3 separate regions of the Homo sapiens genome follow, and regions 2 and 3 are each linked to region 1. The links come from fine-mapping of genetic effects on gene expression. A gene starts in region 1. Each other region holds a variant in brackets. All regions are shown on one strand. Distances are between the middles of the regions. Region 1 holds the start of OR51E2 (olfactory receptor family 51 subfamily E member 2). Region 2 overlaps OR51E1 (olfactory receptor family 51 subfamily E member 1). Region 3 overlaps MMP26 (matrix metallopeptidase 26).

The links. PIP is the estimated chance that this variant, and not a neighbour inherited with it, causes the effect.
Region 2: its variant is the best candidate, but not a certain one, in a credible set for the expression of OR51E2 in fibroblasts (GENCORD, PIP 0.51).
Region 3: its variant is the best candidate, but not a certain one, in a credible set for the expression of OR51E2 in prefrontal cortex (BrainSeq, PIP 0.51).

What each region holds. Positions count from the first base shown.
Region 1 is chr11:4,693,722-4,702,253 of GRCh38, forward strand. It overlaps OR51E2 (olfactory receptor family 51 subfamily E member 2), which reads right to left and starts at 4,132. Exons shown (of 2, transcript NM_030774.4): 1 at 3,932-4,132. It overlaps OR51C1 (olfactory receptor family 51 subfamily C member 1), which reads right to left and starts at 4,132. Exons shown (of 2, transcript NM_001396051.1): 1 at 3,932-4,132. The coding sequence starts at 3,940.
Region 2 is chr11:4,644,844-4,653,375 of GRCh38, forward strand. It overlaps OR51E1 (olfactory receptor family 51 subfamily E member 1), which reads left to right. Exons shown (of 2, transcript NM_152430.4): 2 at 7,645-8,532. The coding sequence starts at 7,684. Among named protein-coding and RNA genes, the nearest start is that of OR51E1, 5.1 kb to the left of the region's middle. The variant G/A (reference allele first, on the strand shown) is at 2,787.
Region 3 is chr11:4,743,898-4,752,429 of GRCh38, forward strand. The region is part of intron 1 of MMP26 (matrix metallopeptidase 26); the gene reads left to right. It also overlaps the pseudogene OR51F4P. Among named protein-coding and RNA genes, the nearest start is that of OR51F1, 22 kb to the right of the region's middle. The variant C/A (reference allele first, on the strand shown) is at 4,708.

The sequences.
Region 1 (8,532 bases):
AAAAAACAAACAAACAAACAAAAAACTGTTGAGCAACAGTGCACTTGTAACACTTCTCTTGATCTTGCTTTACTATCTCAGGGACATTAACTGAGTATCTGGATCTTACATAGTGCTATTTTAGAAGCTAAAGGACAACACAAATAAAACCCCACTTAGAGAGTTTATAATCCAGTGAGGCAGAAAGAGCAGAACCGTTTTTCAATAATTTCAATATCTCATATACAGCGATGAATAATAAAAATGGTTATGAAAGTACAGAGGGGCTCCATTTATGTCAATTAATTCTGGCTTTCATGATTTTTAGTTCCTACGCAATATCTGAGTTGTAATTTTTGTCATTGTGTTGTAGGACATTTTATGTAACCACTTAAAAAAATTAAATTGCTATTTGAATAATTTCTCTTTCATCCTAACTTCTTCATATCTCCCATTACCTCATTTCAACAATTTATTCATTGCCTATTTTCATTCTTCTTGGTAGTTTTTTTCCTCCTTCTTGCCAAGAGATCATAAACAAAACAAAAGAAAACCATAGTGTATATATTTTGACCTGATCTGTGTTGGGCCTAGCAAAAAAAAAATGACTTCTCTCCTTTCCATCACTTTACAAGCATATCTTCCTGCATCCTTCCTACGTTCACGCTGGGCTCAGAGACAGAGGGTACCTTATTCTTTTTCCTAGCCAATAACTCCACTTTAGCTCCTATCAACCAGAAACACTTAGTTCAGTTCAAACTGAACTAAACTATACATATATATACGTGTATATATATATATACACACACATATATATATATACACACACACATATATACGTATATATATATACACACACACATACATATATATATACACACACACACACACACACACACATATGCAGGGAGCTGAGCTTGCTGTGTCAAGAGTCTAGGGACTCTTACTGAAAATAAAAAATGACTAATTTTAAATATCTACTACATGCCAGACAGCGTCTATCAGCAGTAACAGAAACAAACAGATAAATGCTACTAGTTGTAGAGTGTATAAGGATAGGATGTATCTAATTGATAAGGCAGAAGAGATAATAGTGTGGAGTGGCAGATTTGGAGTGTGTGCATACATGAATGTGTCTGTGTGTGTCAAGAAGAACTAGTTCCAAGAATGTTAACAGAATGTATGCTTTATAACTGTGTGAAGTTTTGATGGGTAAATGTGAGTTTATAAGGATGAAAAACAGGGGAAGTGTGCTTTTGCAGTGCCGTTGATAAAATGAGGAGAGACATGAATGAAAGAATAACATAAGCCAGTTTGTTGGATAACTACAAGAGAAGGGGTATATCGAAGTCTTAAATGTGAGGCTAGGTGCTGTGGGAAATGAAGCTAGAGAAAGCACCAGAGGTCAAATCATGAAAATCTTGAATTCCATGGACAGTGTAATGAACTTAAATTTTTGCAGAGCATCAAGAGCCAGACATTTCTAACATTTTATTCACCTTTTATTGACCACTGGAAGCAAGGAGCTTTGCTTTTAATAAATAAATCATTTTCCATCTCTTCTCATTTAATGCCAACAAAATTCCTTTCCCTCTTTAGTATCTTGTTTAGTGCCATTGGTTGCTTTTTTGAAGTCTGCAATACTCAAGTTTTACTCTAACTCAACAATAAAAGCTTCCCACAGTTTTGTATAGATATTTCCAAACAATTCATTTCAACCAGGATATATTGAATAGTTTTCATAATTAGCCTTGTGCTTTGATAGTGAGGGATACAAGACATAAGCCCTGTTTCTCTCTCAATTTCCTGCTGTATCTTTTATAAGGATAAAAATTCCTTTGGAGAACAGTCTGCTTTTGTTTATTATTCCTTCACCTTCAGTAACAATCTGAATTCTTTCCCTAATGACTCTGAAAATCCTCCAAATGATGTCACCCGTGATTTTCTACATGCCAAGTCCAAAAGTTTAATCTCAGATTTGTTTTTCTCTCCCTCATCTCAACTTTCAGCAATGTTTACCTCCTCCTCCTTGAAACTTTCTCCTTCATTAGCTTCAGTGATGGTTATTCTGTGAGGTTTTTTTTTTTCCTGTTTGTTAAACAATGGTTTTGTTCTCTGCCTTATAAATTGTGGGATTCTAGAGGAGTCTGCTTTTCTCCCAAGAAGTACCTCTTCTTTTCTTGCTTTTCATATGCTCTCCTTGAGATATCTTGGTTATTCTCATGGCTTTAAATAGCACTTATATCCAGAAGACTCATAAATCTGCAATCTAATTATGGCATCTCCAGAGTTCTGTATTTTAAAAGTTAGCAGAATCTTTAACGCTGTGGCAAAGTTTCTGGTTTTAAGCGTAAAGGTAGTAATGAGACATGAAAATACAGTGAAGCAATCAAACCTGTAATTTAGAAAAATAATTGACAGCATTTTGGAGAACAAAGCTCCTTGCTGCATGTGGTGAATAAAAAGTAAATAAAATACTGTGGCTACCCCTGAGGGACATCTCTACCCATCATCACTCAGTTACTTCAACTTCTATATGAGACAAATGGAACTCATTCTCTCGTCCCCTCCAAACCTGGCTCTTCCTCCTGCTTCATTTATCAGCAAACGACATCGAACTCTAGTAAATCATTGAATTAAAATTACTACCCACCACACACACACACATGTGTGCACACACATACCCTCCTCTTTCTCTCTCTCATCCCTTACATATAAAGATTAGTTTTTAACTGATTCTACTCCTGAAATGTAAAAGATGAGAACCTCGGGAGGTCTATATAAGAAGGCCAAGCAATTGTTAGTAGTGGGTATTTGCAGCTATTATTTCATTGCATTTTTCTTACATTGAAAAAATCTTAAGTGTTTATATTCAAGACAAGAGGGGGACTAATGAATATCCTTAGAAGGAGGCACTAAATTTCCCCCAAGCTTCTCTTTTGTGCTGCCTTCACTCTAGAATCTTTCCGACCCATCCTCTCCAATCCATATATACTTTCATTTTCTCTCTTGTGAAATAAGCTATATTCTCTCAACTAATTTTTCTGCCCACTCGGATTACAATGATGCTCCTCTTTCATTGCACTATTATAAGCTATAGCTTGTGGCTGTCTTAATCTGCTGAACTAGACCTTATAGTGTCATCAGTATTCTCCATGCTATTGTCAATGGTATGGCTATCATGTGTGACTGACCTGGGTTCAGATTCTTGCTCAAACACTAACTAGTTTTGAGACCATCTACACCATTAATAAAAATATTACTCATAGAAATAGCTACCATTTACTGGACACGTGTTCTGTGAACATTATTGTCCTCAGTGCTTTATAAGCATTATTTTAATTCTTACTATGTCATCATGTGACAAGTATTATTAGATTCACTTTAAATTCATTTTTCTGGTAAAGACACTGAGTATCAGAAGTCTGAAACATATTTGAAATCACATACAACTGGTGAAAGTCAGAGCTGAATTTTTAACTCAGGTCTTTTTAATTCCAAAGCTCGTGCTCTCAAAAACAATTGTTTTACTGAAATCTACAAGTAATATAAACTTTCTGTGACCCAGTTTCCTCATCTATAAGACAGGATATGCGCTGTGTCTAATACCAGTAGCTGGCAGGCAATGCGTTCGAAATTGGTAACTTTTCATTTTTAGTAATAGTTATTGGGCATAGAAATGAGATTCACTGACTGTGATAAATATATCAGCACACTGATTAAACCATTTGACTAAAAACAAGTTATCTAACCTATATCAGGCAGAACGAAATACCCATTCTCTACGTATTTCCTGGGAATAAATAATTCTGAAATTCTACCGTCCTCCTCAGCCCACCATACCAACATCTAATCTAATTCTGCACATTGTGAGGAAATTACTCCCTGTGGGTGAGAAAGTCCAATTCATCTAGAGTCAAGCATTTTCATTGAACAAAACAGTTTTACTTACAGAGCCCATACAGCAGTTCGGCCTGTTCCTTTCAGGCTGACTCAGAAGGCTGAGGAGGCTTTAGATTCCAGGGGAGGGCCGAGCTTGCAAATATGAGGAGACTTATTCCAGCCTGACTGGAGACAGGCACAGAGCTGAAAGGCCAATTCCTGGTGGTGGTGCTAACTCACTGTGTCTTCAGGGTGTGGAGATTCCCAGAAGACTTCTTTTGCCTCATACAGTCCTTTTATATCTGTTCCATTATGCAATTACTTACGGTGGCTATGTGCTTTATGGGCTGATGTAACCTTTTTTTCATGTGTCATTTCACTCAAAAGCTTTTTTATTTAACAGCTTTATTGTTATATCATTCACATACTATAAAATTCACCCATTTATAGTGTATGATTCAATTTTTTTTAGTAAAGTCACAGAACTGTGCAAGAACCATCATCACAATTCAATTTTAGAACATTTTTTATTACCCTTAAAAGGAACCTCATAATCACTAGCAGTCACTCTGAAGGAGATTTTAAAAAACGAAATATTGTAGCAAATTGCTAAATGACATCTCCCATTATGAGTGAGAGTCCAACTCCACCCCTTAACTCCTCAGTATCTATGATTATTCACAGCAGTATGGTTTCATTAGCCCACCTGTGGTTCTTTGCAGCAGCAGTCTTTCTCTTACAGATAAAAAATAATTCATTTACTCATCCATACATATATCCAGTAAATATTTCATAAGAATGTCCCATATTCTAAACATTATACTCAGTGATAGAGTTTTTTTTTTTAAGAATACACCATAATTCTTACTGTTTAGGATTTTAGTGTAGAAGATAGACAGGTTAACCAATAATTACATGTTAACCAATGATAAGGTTATCCTAGAGGCATGAACCAAATGCTTGGTGAATACAGTAGGTAAAAATCTTGGTTCACAACTTACTTGTGTATAAAATACGGTTTCATTTACTTTTTTATAATTTGACCTATTTCGTATTTTGAAGTCCCAACCTACCAGGTTGAAGAGAATTAGTCACAATAATTTGGGGTTCTCTCTACTTATAGTCAAATTTTGAAAATCTTGTATTATACCAAGAAAAATTGCAGGTAGGTGGGTGATTGACTTGGCCAATGATGTCACCTTCTGTCAGTTTACTATCACTCTCATTAGTCTTTAATAAATAGAATGCATAGATTGCTATAAGTTGTCCATCTTTTCTCCTTATGGCCTCTTTAGATCCTTAGATATTCCCACCAATTTGGACCACACTTGGGCATATGGGTCTTTGATTCATTCTCAGTTTCTGTCTCTTACACCCTGCATTTAATCCATTGGTAAATTATGTCAATCTCTTTGAAAAATACAATCAGAAATTGATCACTGTTTATCATCTCCAGAAATGTCACCTTTATTTAAGTCACAATTATCTCTCACTTGGGTAACTTCAGTAGTTTCCTAACCATTCTCCCTGCTTCCGATATTATCTCCTCTCCACTATCAAATCTGTTTCACTACTGAAAATGTCATGGCCTGAGATATTTTCTTCTTCATAATGTAATAAAAACAATAAATAACAAGAACAATAATATTTTATTATGCATTCTACATCCATGATACTAGGCCAAGTGTTTGTGGTAGACAGGATAATGGCCCCTAAAGATACCTATGTCTTAATGCCTGGAACCTGTGAATATGTCACCTTACATTGCAAAGGGACTTTGCAGATGTGATTAAAGTTAAATAACTTGAGATGGCAAGATTAGATGGATTAGCTGGGTGGATCCAATATAGTCACACGGGTCTTTAAAAGTAGAGAACCAGAGAGATGGCAGCATGAGAAGGATTTGATCCACTGTTGCTGGCTTTGAAGATGGCAGAAGGAGGCTACAAGCCAAGGAATGTGGAAAGCCTCCAGAAGGAGAAAAGAAGATAATTGATTTTTCCCTAGCCCCTCCATAAAGAAATGCAGCCTGGTGATTCCTTGATTTTAGCTCAGTGAGATCCATGTCAACTTTTGACTTACACAACTCTACAATAATAAATTCAGTAGAAGAATCCATTATTAGTTTGATTTATGTCTTAAACCATGTTTAAACCAAAAATTAGAGTGTAAGTAACTTACCTAAGTTTCTCAGTTATAAATGGCACAAGTAGTATTCAAAGCCTCGGCTATCTGACACCCTCTCAGTTTTCAAAACTCATTTTCTAAACAGTCTTCACATGACTATCCATTCACCACTACTTTCAATTTGAGTCATCTACACCCAAAAGCCTGCATGCATGCTGATGTGCCAAACTGAATGTTAACAGGTTGTCACTTGTGCATGCTTATTCCTTGCACATAAAGGTATTTTATTGTTGTGTTTCCGCACAGGAAACTTCTTGAGACCTTTGAAAACACTTTCTCTACCAAGTTGGGCAAATTGTAGGGCTGTGACTCTTTTCCCATTAGTCTCAGAAACTATTTGGGAATAGTCACATATTTTTATTCTTATGGTTGAAAGAATGTTACTCTTATAAGAAAAATAAAGTTACTATAGTGGTACCATGTAAATTCTGTGCCAGAGCTTAGTACATGAAAATGAAACTAGTGTGTGTACTGGTTAAAGCACCAATACACACACTGGCACACTACGTCAAAATATGGCTCTTCTCACTGCCCTATTCTCATGCCAGCCTAGCAGAACAGTAGCTGGTAATTTAACTAAACTTTCTGAAAATTTGAGTTCAATGTTCCTCCATGAAATCATACAGCAACACATCTTATTAATACATTAATATTAACTCCATTGAGTCCAGGAAACATATCATAGTCTGTGATGTCATTTGACTTCATATTAATGTTTCTGAAACTTGGTAATCCAAACAGGAAGTACCAAATTGGACATAGGAAAACTCTGCACTAGGAACTTGAAGTAAGTCTTATTTATTGACTGTCAACATTTACTACGGTAAACAGTAAAATATTCTTGGCTATCAAATCAGCAAATGTTTTTTAAAACACATAATACATAGTGTTGTGTTGCTGTGTTACAGTGGACTAAGCATTGTTTTACAATGTTTGCATGAACTTTCTGGAAGCATATTTTCCAGTATATTGTTGTCTTAAAATGTCCATAATATTCCATTTCTAAGAATTTATTGAAAGGAAGATATCAGAGATGCAGGCCATATTTTATGTACAGGAAAATTTATTGCCCCATTATTTACAGTGGTAAAAAATATAGATAAAAATTCTCAATGATACAGAATATATAAAGCATTTATATCGAGTCCTGGGATGTTATGCAACCTTTAAAATTTGTGCATATACCAGCTCAAGTGGATGGTCATGCTTGATCAGGAAATAGAAAAACAAGTTTCAGGGCTAAGACTAGCACAAGGAGCAAACAGTTTAAGATATAAAAGAAACAGGGTTTGATACAGGAGCAAGAGGCCAGAGGCAAAACAGGTAATCCAGGGTTAATGCATTGAAATTGTAGAAATAAACTTAAAAGAGAACAAACAATAACAACAGCAACGAAAACGGGTTGCTGTGTGTTACTGTTTGAATATGTCTCCCATGTTGGAAATTTAATTCCCAAAGTCATATCTTGATTAGATATGAAGACTTTGGGAGATAAGTTGGATCAGATAAGGTCATCATGATGGGACTGGTGGATTTATAAGAAGAAAAAGAGATCTGGGCTGACACAAATGCCCTTGCCCTTTTGCCATGTGATGCCCTCCACCATGTAATGGCAGCACAAAACCTCTCTCCAGAGGCTGGCACCATGCTTTTGAATTTCCTAGCCTCCAGAACTGTGAGCTAAATATACTTCTTTCCTTCACAAATTACCTAGTATTTGGTATTCTGTTATAGCAAGAGGAAATAGATTAAGACACTAAGTCAAAAACCATTTTGTTTATACTACTGTTCAGAAAAATTATTAGAACTCCATATGGCCTACTAGCCCTCCATGGTCTGATGAAAGCCTCACTCACCTCTTTTCCTGGATCCAGCCATGTTGGATTTAGCAGTTTTCCTACCCCGTTGATATGGCTAACACTGACCATTCAATTTTGGTGTATATAGAAATGTCACTCCTCCTTACCTCTCCCTGTGAACTTCTAGCTATTCCTAATATTCCTATTTATTCCATTCTTCTCTGCTCCCACTATATCTTGTTGCACATGCTTTCATTAAAGTTCTTAATTGATTTATTAAGAGAAATATTGTATAGATACTCTACATATATCTGGTATTGAACAAGATCCTGAGGGTATAACAGTGAACACGATAGATATCAACCCAAATATTACACAGTTCGAAGTCTAATGGGGGATACAAATAAGTAAATGGGAAATTAAAATACTGTATTATAATTACTCTACAAGTGGTATTCACAGAGATCTTTGCTATTGAAGGACCAATAATGTTAGCATCGCCTGGAAACTTGTTGGAAATGAAAAGAAAATTAGATCTTCTGAATTAGAACCTGCGCTTTTGCAAGATACCTAGCGCATTAATGTGCCATTCATATTTGTGAAGTGCTGGTATAGATCACCTAGGTGCTGGGACAAGTTAGCCTGTGTGATCAAGGGAGGCTAACCAAATGTAATTGATAATATG
Region 2 (8,532 bases), 49 kb before region 1:
TGAGGTCCTTGCCTTCCTCCCGCCTCATCTTCTCAAACTCTGTTGTGCTCTTGATGCTCTGGCCACCTTGACCTTCCTTTTGTTCCATGAATCCCCCAATATCATTCTTGCTGGGGGACGCTTTTCTCTTGCTGTCTCCCACAGTTGGAATGCACTTTCCCTGGATCTTAGAATGGCTGGTGTTTTCTCATCACATGTCACATCCTTAAGAGAGGCTTTTTCTGACCCCTGTCTCCAGTATGAGTGTCCTGCACCCATCTTCCTCTGTCCTATCACTCTTTCTTTCGTGCCCTTATCTTCAACTGAAATTTTATTTGTTTACTTCTCATTATTGGCCTCGTGTTATATGAGCTCCATAAAAGCCATCATCTTGTCTGATTTATCTACTGTTTCATCTCCAGTTTTTGACACTCAATATGTTTTTGTTGTCTAACCGAATGCTGCTGTGCCCCACCCCATTAACTGCCTGTGTCACTGCCCCATTACCTGCCTGCAGCAGGTCCCGCCACTGCCATGGCTTAAATGTCACCTCCTCAGGGAAGCCCTTGGAACCTAAAAAGCTTGCTGAGCTATTGTTGTCTTTGCTTCTGAGGCCCTTTTGCTTCCCCTTGTCCCAGAATTTATCATAATGTGCTGTGATGGCTGCATATTTGTCTCAATTTCTCCCCATCCTTGGAAGGCTGGAACGATATCTCTGGTACTCAGTGGAGTCTGGCACAGAAGTCCGTCAATGATTATTGAAAAAATGAGTACACTGATCAAAATCCCACTTTGGGCATTTCCCTTGCCTTACATTTGCTTGCAGCCAGAATAGCTCTACAGGGAACTGGTAACTAGGTGCAGCTTTGCAGATCTTTAGAACACTTATCTGGTCCTACTCAGGAAGTGGAGGAGCAGAGACCTGAAACCTAGGAACTCTGCCTAGGGGTGATTTTAGGTGGTCAGGCTGACTTGAGTGACCAGGGTGGGGTGAGGGCTCACTTGGCTTTTTGGGAGTTAGAAGTTGCTCTCTCTCATCTTTCCATTTTCATCTTGGCCATTTTAAGAAGAGTGACCAACACCTTGCAAGGGTTCATCTGCTTTATTAAATACAAGCAAGGTGTGGGGCACAGTGGATGCAGATAATTTGAGTGGAAGTCATGCTGGGGCTACTACCCTCACTAAGTGTTAGGGAAGGGACTCTATTTAAGAATCAAGTGACAAGCTCCTCCAGTCCTTGCCAGCCACAGCATTGCCCCTGAGGTCTGCCTTCCCTCTCTGTGCCTGGGATGAGGAGCCAGAGGCTCCCAGGTATGTCTGGGCTTCTCTCCAGGGACATTCTTTTCTAAATATTCCCAGAGGCTGACAGCAGCGCCAGAGGCCCTCACTCCATTGCTCTGGGCATGAAACATTCTGTGTGTTTAGCCCAGATAGTGACACTGACAATGAATCTCCTCCTGGTTCTCCTTCCACACTGAACCTAAGTGGGGAGAGCTGGTCATGTGTCCTGAGTCCGAGAGGGGCCCCTGGACTCATGGGTCATCAGTGTTGGATTCCTGAGAGATTAATATTGAAATAGTGCTTACAAAGCGAAGTCCCTTCTTAAGGAGACATGGGGAGGGGTAGGGCAGTAGCTTGGCCTACTGTAAAGCAATGGATTTAGCACTAAGGGCTCTAACTAACCCTCAACATCCTTATCTGTCAAATGGGATTAATGATATCTGCTTGACAGGTGGATGAGAGGCTCTAATTAGATAATAAGGAAATACGTGGTAGAGGACAAGCCTTTTAATCTCCATTGTGGGGCCTACCCACCTCACAGCCTTTGGAGTTAGGGCTGAAAGAGGAGGTGAGTGTCCCAAGTTCCAGTGCAGAAGAGTCTTCTTTGCAGCCCTCTTGGTTTCCCTTCTAAGAGTATACCCAGGGCAGCTGTGCTACTTACCAAGCCCTTCTTATACCTTGCCTTTTGGGTGGATTTTATTAGCTTTCAGAAGGTGCAGCAAAATTAAAGGCAGCCTAGAATGAGGGAAAGTGTATAGGCCTTGGTATGAGACTATCTAGGTTAAGTTTCTGCATTACCAGTCACCTGTTAAACTTTGGTTATGTTATTTAATGTCTTGGAGCCTCAGTTTTCTCACCCATAATATAGAAAGGATCCATAGTATTCACCCATAATATAGAGAGGATCCATGGTGCAGCAAGAAGGGATGTTGATGACTTTGGCCCCTTTGCCTGAAGTTCTAGGTTAAATCGGTTTCTCTGCCTTAAACTTTCCCTCCCAGCAGATTGAATTAAACACCCTCACCTTCTGCAGAGCTGTTCCCAGATTAGAGATAATATTTATACAGATGGCACTGTATAGTTTCTGTCATTTTGTAGGTGCTCAATAATCTATGTTCATATTATAAAAACAACAAAATCAGGGTTAAAGGTGACCTCATTGTTCTCTTGGGTCAGAAGAGATAGGGCTAATAGGCTAATGGTACACCTTTGGAGTACCATCTCACTAAGTTCTAATTACTAACAGCTGCTCAAGCTGGAAGGCCATCTGGAAGTCTTCTGTCCCTCTGCCTGTCTTGTGGAGGGACTATGGAACATTGGGATGCTTCAGGGCTGGCCAGTCTGAAGGGTGGCACTTGGGCCCTCTGGCTGGCTTCCTCTCCATCCCTTCATTTCTCTCCTGCTGTCTGGTTTATCTCTCTGACTGCTTTTTCACGGGTCTATGAGAAGGAGTTCTAGGGAAGAATGTGAGGATGGGCTGGTGAGGGGGGCTGGGCTGGCATTAGGAGACAGAGTTCTGAAGCCCG[G/A]GGGAAGGAAGGGAGAGGACTGAAGGCCTCCACGTGGATTTCCAGTCTTTACAGCTGGGAGCTCCTGTTCCCCTATTCCTGAGAAAAGGTTAAGATGTCCTTCATAGTTCCTGAAGAAACATTCCTGGAACTTGCTAAGATAGTTCAACTTATTCACAGAAAATCTCAGCACAGGGCTATTCCTTGGGGATTAGAGCAGTGTGTGAGCTTTCTAAAAAAAAAATGCTTTGTTAGTTTATTTTTTCTTGATTGTGCCTTATTTTCAAAATAATTTAGTTCCAAGTTCCTCCAGAGCTCAAAACCATCTCACTGAGTTTTAATTACTAACAGCTGCTCAAGCTGGAAGGCCACCTGGAAGTCATCTGGTCACTCTGCCTGTCTCGTGGAGGGACTGTTGAACATTGGGACGCTTCAGGGCTGGCCAGTCTGAACGGTGGCACTTGAGCTCTCTGGCTGGCTCCTTCTCCATCCATTCATTTCTCTCCTGCTGTAGTCTTCTGGGGTCCAGGCTGATATTTTAGCCCCAGCGATAGCTGCCCATTTTATACTGCCTAGGCACCTCCTTCCCAGGCCAGCTAAATCTTCCTTTTGTTGATTTCTGGTATCTTTGTATCAGTGCCCAGTCTTGCTATTGTGAGAAATTGACTGCTAGTAAATATGTGTGTGTATGAGTGTGTACATACAGGCCAAGTGGTGATTAAGGTGACAAATTTGGGGAATTGAAAAGTATATGAAATTTCATACATTTTCAGAGACCTTGTTGCCCATTTTTGTGGAAAACAATGCACTATGTGTACTCCGATTTGGTTTTTACAATTTCTTTAGACATGCCTTATCTCATACAATTTCACAGCAGCACTATGCAGTTATTATTATTCACTGCATTTATTTAGCGCCAAGACTTGTGTTCTAAGCCCCAGGATTCTGCTCACCACATCACTCTACCTTCAGAGGCAATAGTGTTGCATATGCCCAGCCAGAGTTCTTTCCCAGTGTGTTTCCTAAGACAGCACATTTTTTAAATCCTGAGTATCAACCTGCTCTGCCATATCTGTTTATGTAAAACTGATGGATAGCATGGATATCTGACCCTCTGGAGTACCAGAACCTTCTTGCCAGTGTTTCCAGGTGAGGGATCTTAGGTCTATCCTGCTCTTAGGCACAAATTGTGCTGCATGTCCACTTTGCATTTATTAGGACCAAGACCTTGCAGCTGCTCTGTTTTTTTTAATACATATTTCTCTGGCCCTCCAGCTCCTTTGGTAAGAAAGGACTTTTCTGTTTGACCCTAAAGATTATTTTTACAAAATTAAAATTACTCTGCACTGACCTTCCAAACATCATCTCATCCTTCTCAAAAGTCTCTCTAGTACAGATAACAGGCAGTCTTAACTATGCCCTTGGCTGTGTTACCCTCACTAGATGTATACTAAGAGACTCTCCTGTTGATAAAACTCATTTTCATCTTCCAAAACATTAACTAAACAATTAATAAATATAATAAGGTTCCTGGTGTTCAGGAGCTCATAATTCAGGGGAAAATATAGCAATAATTATAGTTACTATTATCAAGAGGGTAAATACTTTAAAAAGACCTAAATAATGTTCTTTTTGAGCACAGAACAGTAAGCATTTAATTATGCCTAGGTAAAAAAGGCTTAGGAAAAATAGTATAGGAGAGAGACAGTAAGCCAGGATGTGAACAATGAGTGTGGGAAGTCAAGGAGGAAGATCTGGGAGGAACAGTTTTTCTTGACAAGGGGATGAGAAGTAAAAAAAGACAGAAAGACACAGAGTCATGGGAATCAAGGCTATGTTTGTGAAATAGCATGAACTTCAATGTGGCTAGATCATAGGGATCATGGTGAGGAGTGGTGAGGGAGGAACCCAGGCCCGGATGATGAAAGTCAGATCTTTAGCCATGTCATAAGAAGTTTAGTCTTTATTCTAGAATCAATTTGGAGTTTCAAGGGTATTTTTTAAAATAATAGGGAGCGAGCTGGTTTCATCTGGTTAGATTGTTGGGACTTTGTGGATGAGGAAGGTTACCCTAGAGACGTGGCAGTCAGGATCAGAGAACCTGGCTTGTATGATGGTTCACGCCACCATAACAGAAAAAAAGAAACACTGGAGGAAAATGGTTAACAGCAACAGATATTATTTTTGGCATACTTACTATGTGTGAGGTATTGTGTTAAGTGCTTTACATTTATCATCTCATTTAATCTTCACACTGACCCCCTATTAGCCAGGGACTCTTATAATCATTTTAATGATGAGGATGCTGAGGCTTAGAAAGGTTAAATGATTTACCCCAGATCATACAGCTCTAGAGGTTTTAGACTGGGTTTAGAATGCATGATTGATTTCAAAGATCATAGTTTCAATGGCTATATAATACTGCCTCTGAAAGAGTTTGTTTTTTGAACATGGAGAGTTTGATGTAGTTGAAAGACAATTAGGTGAACCCTTTTAGTAAGTCTTCCGAATTATGAACCTGGATTACAAAAGAGAATTCAGGGTTCATTAACTAGGTTTGGGGATCAATTGTTTGTATAACAAAAATGGATTTACTGAAGGGGATGAGATGGCCCAGGAAGAGAATATAGAACAGGAAGAGCACTGAAGATGCAATTTTGGAGAGGAGAGTGAAGATCCAGAAACGAAACCAATAATTAGTGATTAGAGAGAGCCGAGGAACAGCAGAAAGGAGAGGGAGAAGCTCTAAGAAGGAGGAAAGTGCTCCTGGTGCCACATGCTGCAGAGAAGCTGCAGCAGCGAGAAGGGACATTGATGACTTCGGCCCTTTGCCTGAAGTTCTAGCTTAAATATGGTTTCTCTGCCTTAAAACTTCCCTTCCCAGCAGATTGAATTAAACTCTCTCACCCTCTGTTCTACTATTCATGCTCCCATTGTTTTCCCACTAATTTCTATCTGGTCTGAGGAAACCTCTGGGTGACCGCTTGATGCTGGTACAAAGATTTGTGACACACCCTGAGCCCATGGGACCTCTTCTGATGCTGGCCATGAATTCTGACTTATGCTCAGCTGCTTTCTGGTAACCAGTGCAGAAACCCCTATCCCAGCTCTCAAACATTCAAGGGCCAAATCTATGTAAAAACTACAATACACATGATCTAATAAATACAGGTTGAGTACCCCTAATCCAAACATCCAAAATCTGAAATGCTCCAAAATCTGAAACTTTTGGAGCACCAACATGATGCTCAAAGAGAATGCTCACTGCAGCATTTCAAATTTCAGATTTTTGCATTAGGGATGCTGATCTGGGTATGTATAATGCAAATATTCAAAAAAAAAAATCCCAAATCGGAAACACTTCTGGTTTCAAGCATTGAAGATAAGGGCTACCCTATAGTAGGAGCACATGAATATTTGTCGATGGAGGAAAGAAAGGGAGGGAGGGAGGGAATCAGTTCACTCTTAACAGACACATACAATCTGAGATGACCCAAGTCTGACATTTTCCACCTCAGTAATATCAAATCATTTTTATAGTCAGATTCAGTTTGTTTGCAGACTGAATTCTGCTATAGGATTGATTATGCCTCCAGTGCTTCTAATGCCATCACCCCTCAGGGTTAGTATTCTAGTTGTATCAATCTCACTTTCTTAGATTGGGTGGGTCTCCTAGAAGCAGAACCTGAGGTGGGGGTTCTTGTCCAAATGACATATTGAGGGAGTACATGGCCATGAGAAGAAGAAGGAGGGAATCCTGGTAGGGCAGGGGAAGAAAGCTAAGCAGGGCTGTGGTCTCAGCTGGAGACAAGCCTCAGGCTGGTTCCTTGGGAAGCTCTGAAGTACAAATTGCATCAAAGTGTTTGTTGCACCCAGAGGCAATGGGGCTCACCTTTGGTACCCCTTATGTCAGGCAGCCACTGGCCTCTAGATGTGCATCATGGGGGCACAGTGTAACCTTCCTGGGTGAGGTGCCTCCCATTTGACCAAGGACAATCCTCTGGAAAGAAGGGGAGCTGTGAGCCCTTAGCACTCAATGCTCAGTGCAGATGGGAGATGGTTACATTGGCTTTGTGAATGGGGTCTGGCTGGGATACGAACGGTATCCACTAGAGCCATCATTCTTTATTTGAAATAAACTGAGTAGTCTGGACAAGTGTAAAGCTTTGGGTGGTCATTTGGACAAGAAGGTAATGTAGAGTTAGAGTTCAGGATTAATTTAGTGTCAGTTTTTTATTGGATTACGGTTTATCATAATAAAATAGAATATGAATTGTGACTTGAATATCATCAATTCGATCTTTAAGATTGAAATGGTTATTAAAAGGTCAAATATTAAGTTATGTTAAAGTTAGGGTTAAGTCTAGAATTGGGGAGATCATTAGATTAATGCTGGGGTTAGGTTTCAGTATTAATCTGTTACTACTAGTGTTGTTACACTTGGACTGGAATTTTTTCTTAAAGATAGTCTAATGATATGCTTAGAATTGCAGTTAGTATTAAGCATAGGGAAGCATAAAGGTAAGCTAGGATAGAGGAAATGGTGAGATATTTTTATCACCTAAGATTCTTTTATATTCAGCCAGTAGCCTTTCTTTGGAGAACTAAATGGTTTGGCATATGCTTAAAATTTTTGTCTTAGTCTTTCACTTGCTGTCAGGATTAACAATACAGATGGGGTTAGTAAGTAGGACTGGATGAATTTGTGTCTGGTTCTTGAATTATGTTAGATTATGTGAGATTGCATTTAGAATATGATTAGAATTTGCATAAGGAATGGATTTAGAGTTTGAGTTAGAGAACAGTACATCAGGATAGAGTCAGGTGTTAGGTATTGGGATGCTTATGGATCTGACAGTGGCTTATCTTTGCATTCCAGCCTCTACCTGCCTGGTGCTGGTCACAGTTCAGCTTCTTCATGATGGTGGATCCCAATGGCAATGAATCCAGTGCTACATACTTCATCCTAATAGGCCTCCCTGGTTTAGAAGAGGCTCAGTTCTGGTTGGCCTTCCCATTGTGCTCCCTCTACCTTATTGCTGTGCTAGGTAACTTGACAATCATCTACATTGTGCGGACTGAGCACAGCCTGCATGAGCCCATGTATATATTTCTTTGCATGCTTTCAGGCATTGACATCCTCATCTCCACCTCATCCATGCCCAAAATGCTGGCCATCTTCTGGTTCAATTCCACTACCATCCAGTTTGATGCTTGTCTGCTACAGATGTTTGCCATCCACTCCTTATCTGGCATGGAATCCACAGTGCTGCTGGCCATGGCTTTTGACCGCTATGTGGCCATCTGTCACCCACTGCGCCATGCCACAGTACTTACGTTGCCTCGTGTCACCAAAATTGGTGTGGCTGCTGTGGTGCGGGGGGCTGCACTGATGGCACCCCTTCCTGTCTTCATCAAGCAGCTGCCCTTCTGCCGCTCCAATATCCTTTCCCATTCCTACTGCCTACACCAAGATGTCATGAAGCTGGCCTGTGATGATATCCGGGTCAATGTCGTCTATGGCCTTATCGTCATCATCTCCGCCATTGGCCTGGACTCACTTCTCATCTCCTTCTCATATCTGCTTATTCTTAAGACTGTGTTGGGCTTGACACGTGAAGCCCAGGCCAAGGCATTTGGCACTTGCGTCTCTCATGTGTGTGCTGTGTTCATATTCTATGTACCTTTCATTGGATTGTCCATGGTGCATCGCTTTAGCAAGCGGCGTGACTCTCCGCTGCCCGTCATCTTGGCCAATATCTATCTG
Region 3 (8,532 bases), 50 kb after region 1:
TGGGCTCAAGTGATACTCCCGCCTCAACCTCCTGAGCAGGTAGGATCACAGACTCACTCTACCTTACCACCTAATTTGTTTTTGTATTTTTTTTAGAGATAATGTGTTGCCCAGGCTGGTCTGAAACTCCTGGACTCAAGTGATCCTCCTGCCTTGGCCTCCAAAATGCTGGGATTAAAAGTGTGAGCCACCGTGCCTAGCAGGACTATTCTTACTCCCCATGTCTATTTCTACTCTTCAGGGATACTATAATTTAAATATTTTATCTTAGAAATCTCAACTAGGTTTCACACTGACCGTATTTCCTTGATTTTTTTCCAGAATTTTATTGTTTATGGACATTTTCAGAATGAAGGTTCAGCACATTAGAAAGAATCTCTAGTTTTTTAAAAAATTTAAGCTGCCTTAAATAATAAAATACTAGGACATTTCCTATTGTAAATTCTTAATTCAAAGGCAATTCAACAGCATTTTGTGTTTTTATGTCTGCTACAATTTTCTTTTAGAAATATATTCTCTTTTAAAGACAATTCTCTTCCTGCAAAATGAGTCAACATAAATCGTCTAACGTTAATGCATGACCATTGTCTCTTGGATGCCCCTGTACTTACATTCAGTGAAGAGGATGAGGAAGAGGCAGGGCTCTGAGGTCCAATTCAGCTCCCAGAATAGAGGATATTTATGAGGAACTCAGCCCTATGAGGATCATTTACCTCGCCCCACAAAAAAACTTATTCTTAAGGGATCTTTCTGATAAATTGTATTTGCTTGTTTTGCCTTTGTGCTTTGGAGTCATTCTGCATGCCCAAATCTACTTATTCTCCCGTGTGGTTTCTTTTCTTCTTTAAAAAAATTTTATTAGATTTATTAAGGGACAATTGCTAAAAATTATATATATGTGCAGTGTAGAGTGTGATGTTTTGATATACATATACATTGTGAAATGATTATCACAATGAAGGTTATTAACCTATCTATGACCTTCCATAATCACCTCTTCTTCTTTATATTTTGTGATAAGAAGATTTAATATGCAGTCTCTTATCAAAGACAGTATGCAATACAATATAATTAATATAGTCTCCATGCTATACATCAGATCTCCAGAATTTATTATACATAGTTTCATGTATTGCAATTACTGAGATGTTTCTTTTTTGACTTGCTATGACTTATTAAAATTCGATGTTATGAAAATTATAAATTTTGACTAATATAAAAAGTGTACACATATAGTTTTCTTACCTCCTTTGGGAAGGAAACCACTGAAGCCACTTGATATTCTTGGTTTCACACCCGGTTGTTCCACCAAAATAAATATTTTTCTTCCCCACAGACAAAGATCAAAACGAATATGTTTTAGATTTGGAATAATAAACAACAAAGAAATATACGGTTGCATTTGTAGCTCAGTGGCTTCCCAGACTGGCTGAGTATCAGGTATACTTTGGAAATCTTACTATAAATACAAATTCTCAGGCCTCATCCCAGAACTAGTAAAACAAAATATTCAGATGCTAGGGCCCAGAATCCTGCATTTTAATAGACTTTGTTAGATAAGTTTTAGGTTCACAGCAAAATTTAGCAGAAAGTACAGAATTCCCATATATGCCTCCCAGCGCCACATGCACATCCTACCCCTCCATAATATCTCCCAGTGGAGTGGTACATTTGTACGTTCGTCACTATCTATGAGGCAACATTGACAAGAAATTATCACCACTAATCCAGTTTAAATTATGGTTTACTGTTGGTGTTGTATGTTCTATGGATTTGATGCATGTGTAATGATACATACCTTCCATTGTAGTGTCATGCAGAATAGTTCCATTGCCCTAAAAAGTCCTCTGTGCTCTGTCTATTCTCCTATATCTCCCTCCCCACTCCTGGAAACCATTGATTTTTATAATATCTCCAAAGTTTTGCCTTTTCCAGGATGTCATATAGTTGGAGTTATACAGTATACAGTCCTTTCAAAATGTTTTTCCACCTAGTAGTAAGTATTTAAGTTTCTTTAATGTCTTTTCATGGCTTGATAGCTAATTTTAATGCCGAATAATATTCCCTGGTAGAGATGTATCAGGAATCCAAATTTTTAACAAGATCCTCAAGCAATAATTATGTGTTTGGCCTTGTACTATAGTTGTTATGTATTCAGACTATGGATTAACCTTTGGAAAACACTTCATAGACAAGTGATGCCATTATCAAAATTTGAATGCCAATTAAAATTTTCATAGTCAATCTTATGTTCCCATTGACTTGCATTATCATTTCGAGTATTTTCTCACATTATTAATTCTCACTTTTAGTGATTTCTATCATTTTAGTGTTCTTTCTTCCTATTTCTATGTCAAGTAGTTTTTGATTTTATACCATGGTTGCAGTAAAGTAGAATTACTGGTTAAAGTTCTTGTAATAGGAATTATCCAATAGTTGTGTTCTTTATTGAGATTTCTTGAAAGAAGGTAAATCTATATAGTAAATATTTTTTAAATTATATCTTTGCAAATTATATTCCTCACTAGGCATTAAGTATTCTTAAGGCAAGAAGCTAGTCTTGTTCATGTTTGTATTCTCAATATCCATCTCACTACTTGATTTACAGTAGGCGCTAAATACATGCTGTTGTTAAAGATGAATAAGAATATAAATTGGGGCCGGGCATGGTGGCTCACGCCTGTAATCCCAGTACTTTGGGAGGCTGGTGGGTGGATCACGAGGTCAGGAGTTTGAGACCAGCCGGGCCAACAAGGTGAAACCCCGTCTCTGCTAAAAATACAAAAATTAGCCGGGTTTGGTGGTGGGCACCTGTAATCCCAGTTACTCGGGAGGCAGAGGCAGGAGAATCACTTGAACCAGAGAGGTGGAGGTTGCAGTGAGCTGAGATTGTGCCATTGCACTCCAGCCTGGGCAACAAGAGTAAGTCTCTGTCACACACACACACACACACACACACACACACACACACACACACACAAAGGCTATACATTGGAATAATGTTCTTGGTCTCAGTTCTTAAGGCCACAAAACTTTGAGCTGGATGTTTAGTGTTGTAAAATGTGACACATTTTATCCTTATTTGTAAAAAATGAATGTTTGAAGTAGGGTAGGGTGAACCAGACTGCCAAATCCCAGGTCATTGATCCTGGCAATAAGCTAGAGTAATTGCGGTAGGGTTCTTAGTAACTGGTTGATGCAAGTGGACCCTGAGGAAGTAATCCTTAGATATAGCATTCTACAGCATTTCTATGTCTAAACGAAGTAGCAGTCAGAATGAGCTTACCAAATAGATATGACAGAGGTATAGAGAATTAGCCAGTAGGGTTTGAAACCACAGAGGGCTAATAGCTGGGAAAGTGTTGAACAGAAAATATGAAGGGACAGTGAGATCCATAGGAATTCTGGGTAATGAGCAAGTTTCTTTAGTTGGTTTTATGCAGTATTTAAATAACAGGAAAAGTGTCCTTAAGAAACTCTGTTACTATCTGAAATACAAAGGATAAAATTTGTTTTAAATTTTATTTTTCCATATCTATGCATATAAATATAAAAAGAAAGGATAAAAATCAAAACTGTGCAATGGTTACCTCTATAGAGAAGTCAGAAAGAGAGTGGGTTTGGGGGAATATAGCAAGGTAGATGTTGGCCTTTTCTAAAATATATTTCATTAATGAGAACTTTTTTTTGTATATTAATATTTCATTAAAAACCTTTTAAAGAGGTCTTTATGTTTTATGGAAAACAGAAGGAGGAAAAAGGTAAGATTGGAGACCTAGAGAACTCTAAGGAAACTGATTTAGGCAAAGGATTTTGATGCCTAAACTGAGACCAAAAGTGAAGATAAGATATTTTGGTGTTAAAATAGGCAACATAAGAAAACCTCTGGCATACAGCAAAAACAGTACTGAGAGAGAGTTTTATAGCATTAAATGCCTGCATCAAAAGAATAGAAAGATCACAAGTTAACCTAACATCATACATCAAGAAACTAGAAAAACAAGAACAAATGGAACCAAAGCTAGCAGGAGAAAATAAATTACAAAGATCTGAGCAGAACTAAATGGAATTAATACCAAAAGAACAATACAAACAATCAACAAAATTAAAAGGTGGTTCTTTGAAAAAATAAAAAAACTGATAGACAACTAGCTAGACTAACCAACAAAAGAAGAGAGGAAATTCAAATAAGTACACTCAGAAATGAAAAAGGAGACATTACAATTGATATCATAGAAATACAAAAGATCATCACAAACTACTATGAGCAACTCTACACTCACAAACTAGAAATCCTCAAGGAAATGAATACATTCCTGGAAATATAACCTCCAAAGACTGAACCAGAAAGAAATAGAAAACCGAACAGACTAATATCGATTAGTAAGATTGAATCAGTAATAAAAAATCTTACAAATAAGAAAAATCCAGAACCAGATGGATTAACAGCCAAATTCTACCAGACACAGAAAGAAGAGTTGGTACCAATCCAACTAAAACTGTTCCAAAAAATCAAGGAGGGGGGAATTACCCCTAACTCATTTTATGCAGACTGTATCACCAATACCAAAGCCAGGCATGTACACACATGAAAATAAAACTACAGATAAATATCCCTGATGAATATAGATGCAAAAATTCTTAACAAAATACTAGCAAACTGAATCAAACAGCACATCAAAAAAAAAAAAAAACACAACAATGAAG[C/A]GGGTTTTATTCCACAGATTCAAGGATGTCGCAACGTAGGCAAATCAGTAAGTATGATTCACCACATAAGCAGACTTTTTTTAAAAAAAATATGATCACGGCAATAGTTGCAGAATAAGCAATTGATAAAATTCAGCATGAGTTCGTGAAAAAAACCCTCAAGAAACTAGGCATAGAAGGAACATACCTGAAAATGATAAAAGCCACGTATGACAAACCTGCAGCCAACATCATATTGAATGGGGAAAAGTTGAAAACATTTTCTCTAAGAACTGAAACAAGGCAAGGATGCCTACTTTCACCACTTTTATTCAAAATAGTACTGGAAGTCCTAGTCAGAGCAATCAGGCAAGAGAAAAAATGAAATGCATCAAAATTGGAAAAGAGGAAATCAAATTATCTCTATTTGATGATGATATGATCATATACCTAGAAAATTCTAAAGACTCCACCAAAAGACTCCTAGATTTGATAAATACATTCAGTAAAGTTTCAGGATACAAAATCAACATACAAAAATCAGTAGCATTTCTAAATAACAATAGCTATCTAGCTGAGAACCAAATTAAGAACTCAACCTCATTTATAATAGCTACAAAGAATATGTAGGAATTCATTTAATCGAGGAGGTGAAAGATCTCTTCAAGGAAAACTACAAAATGCTGAGGAAAAAAATGTAGATGATACAAACAAATGGAAAAATATCCCATAATCATGGATCAAAAAATCAGGATTGTTAAAATGACCATACTGCCAAAGCAATCTGCAGATTCAATGTAATACCTAACAAATTACAAAAATCATTTTTTTCACAGAATTAAAAAAAAATCTAAAATTCTTATAAAAAAGGAGCCTGAATAGCCAAAAGAATCCTAAGCAAAAAGAACAAAGTTGTAGGCATCACATTACTTGACTTCAAATTGTACTACAAGGCTATAGTAAGCAAAAGAGCATAGTACTGGTATAAAAATAGACACATTGACCAATTAAACAGATTAGAGAACCCAGAAATAAAGCCACATATCTACAGCCGGCTGATCTGTGACAGTGTTGACAAAAACATACACTGGGGAAAGGACAGAAACCCTATTAAATAAATGGTGCTGGGAAAATTGGATTGCCAATATGCAGAATGAATCTGGACACCTATCTCTCACCATATACAAAATTTAACTCAAGATGGAATAAAGACTCAAATGTAAGACCTGAATTTATAAAAACACTAGAAGAAAAGCTAGGAAAAACTTTTATGGACATTTGCCTTGGCAAGGAGTTCATGACTAAGACCTCAAAAGCAAATGCAACAGAAACAAAAATAGATAAAGGGGACTTAATTAAACTATGAAGCTTCTGCCCAGCAAAAGAAATTAATCAACAGAGTGAACAGATAACTTGCAGAAGGGGAGAAAATATTTACCAATTGTGCATCTAACAAATGACTAATATTCAGAATCTACGAGGAATTCAAACATCTCAACAACAACCAATAACAAATAACTATTAAAACGTGGGCAAAGGACATTAACAGACAGTTTTCTAAAGAAGACATACAAATGGCCAACAAGCTTATGAAAATTGCTCAACACCACTAATCATCAGAGAAGTGCAGATTAAAACCACAATGGATACCTATCAGAAGGGCTATTATTAAAATGTCAAAAAATAACAGATGTTTGTGAGGATGTGGAGAAAAGAGAACATTTACACACTGTTGGTGGGAATGTAAATTACCAGTACCTCTATGGAAAACTACTTGGCTATTTCTCAAGGAACTAAAAATTGAACTACTATTTGAGCTGGCAATTCCACTACTGAGTAGTTTCCCAAGGGAACATAAATTATTATATATTTTTAAAACCTGTATTCATGTGTTTATCACAGTACTCTTCACAATAGTAAAATATGGAATAACTGTAAGTGTCCAACAGTGGATGACTGGATAAAGAAAACGTGGTGAGTGTATACCATGGAATCATACTCAGTCATAAAAAAGAATGAAGTGATGTTTTTTGCAGTAACATTGATGGGACTAGAGGACATTATCTTAAATGAAATAACTCAGAAACAGAAAGTAAAATACTGCATGTTCTCACTTATAAGTAGGGGATAAATAATGTGCACATATGGCCGTTTAGAGTGAAATAATAGACATTGGTAACTGGGAAGGGTAGGAGGGTGGAAGTGGGATAGGGGAGGAGAAATGATTTAATGGGTGTAAGGTACTCTATTTGTATGACGCCTATACTAAAAGCCCAGACTTCAGCACTATGCAATATATCCATGTAACAAAACTTTGCCCCCTAAATCTATTTTTTTTTAAAGAATAGACAAGAAATACAGATTTATTGGATGTGGGACCAAACGGGGACAACTTTCTGAGACCTAAAGTTCCATAATAGCCATTCAACTATGCAGTTTGGAAAGTTAGAACTATGATCAATTACCAGATAATATAGGCAGAAAAATTTTACTCAGTTGAAAGAGAAATTTCTTGTGTTACACATGTCAAGTATTGAATCAAGGGAGTTATCACTGGAATTGTTTAGATAGATTATTCGATAGGTTTTTCTGTATAGTTCAATTCAACAACTATCAATAAGTATCTACTATGTGAAAGGTGTTCTGCTGAGTATTACAGAGCCTTCAAATAAAATCAAGACTTTTTATTTAGGAAATGTACAGTCTTGTGAAAGCTATAATAATGTACACACAGGTGTGCACACATATAAAGGCAAAACTGATATGAACAAAGCAATATGAAAATTATGAGGAGAGAACAAATATCACTGGAGCAATCATAAAATATTTAATGAGGAAGATATTTAAAGATGAGCCTTGAAACCTAAGTAGAACTTCACAGTGAAGTGGATGTTAAAGTTGAAGTGGAGTCAACAGTAAAGTCCACCATGAAAAAACTGCATGCATTTGAAGAAGTCGTAAGCAGACTGGCATTTTTAGACTGTAGAGTATGGGAAAAGAGAAAAAAGTGAATGAAACTTTAAAGAAAGTTTAAGCCTAAATTGTTGAGGAAATTACCATAGACAGGATTTGCTGCTTCATTTAGTTGGTGCATATGAAATAAAAATAAAATATATATTTATTTGTTTCTTTTTAAAATGTTCTTAGGGCTGGATATTTGGAATCTTAATTCAAAGTGAATCATGTGATTGTTGAGCAGAAACAGCATAGAAGCATTAATTCAGTTAGTCATCTGTTGGAACAAGGTAACTAAGATAGTGAGAATCTGAATTAGTATTTTGATGGTAGAAAAGAGATTGCTTAGCAATGATAATTACATTGTGGAGACATTTGAATTGGATGGCATTTAGTTTCACTCAACTCTAAAATTGCATGCATGGGTTTATAATTCCAATTTGTGGTAAATTTTCTAGACTTTGAAATAAGCCTTTATAGGAGTAGTACATGTTAAATATGAATTCCCTTGGAACATACAAATTTGAGCACAGCTTTCTGAATCTGCTTTGTTTTCACACTGTAGATGATGGGGGATTCATCACAGAGGGGATGAGCAAGTATACGTTAGCAATGGGGGTGGGCACATAGGGTGGGGCATGTTTTCCAAATCTGTGAACAAAGGACAGGCTGATCAAAGGGATGTAGAATATGCCAACAGCAGTGATATGAGAAATGCAGGTGCTGAAGGCCTTCTTCCTCTCCTCTGGGGATGCAATGCTGAGACCTGAGCGAATGATCAGCAGATAGGAGAGCAAGATAAAGATGGAGTCCACTCCGGCAGTAGAGATGATTGCACTTAATCGTAGTGCACTGTTGATCTTTGTGTCTGAACATGAGAGTTTCATCACA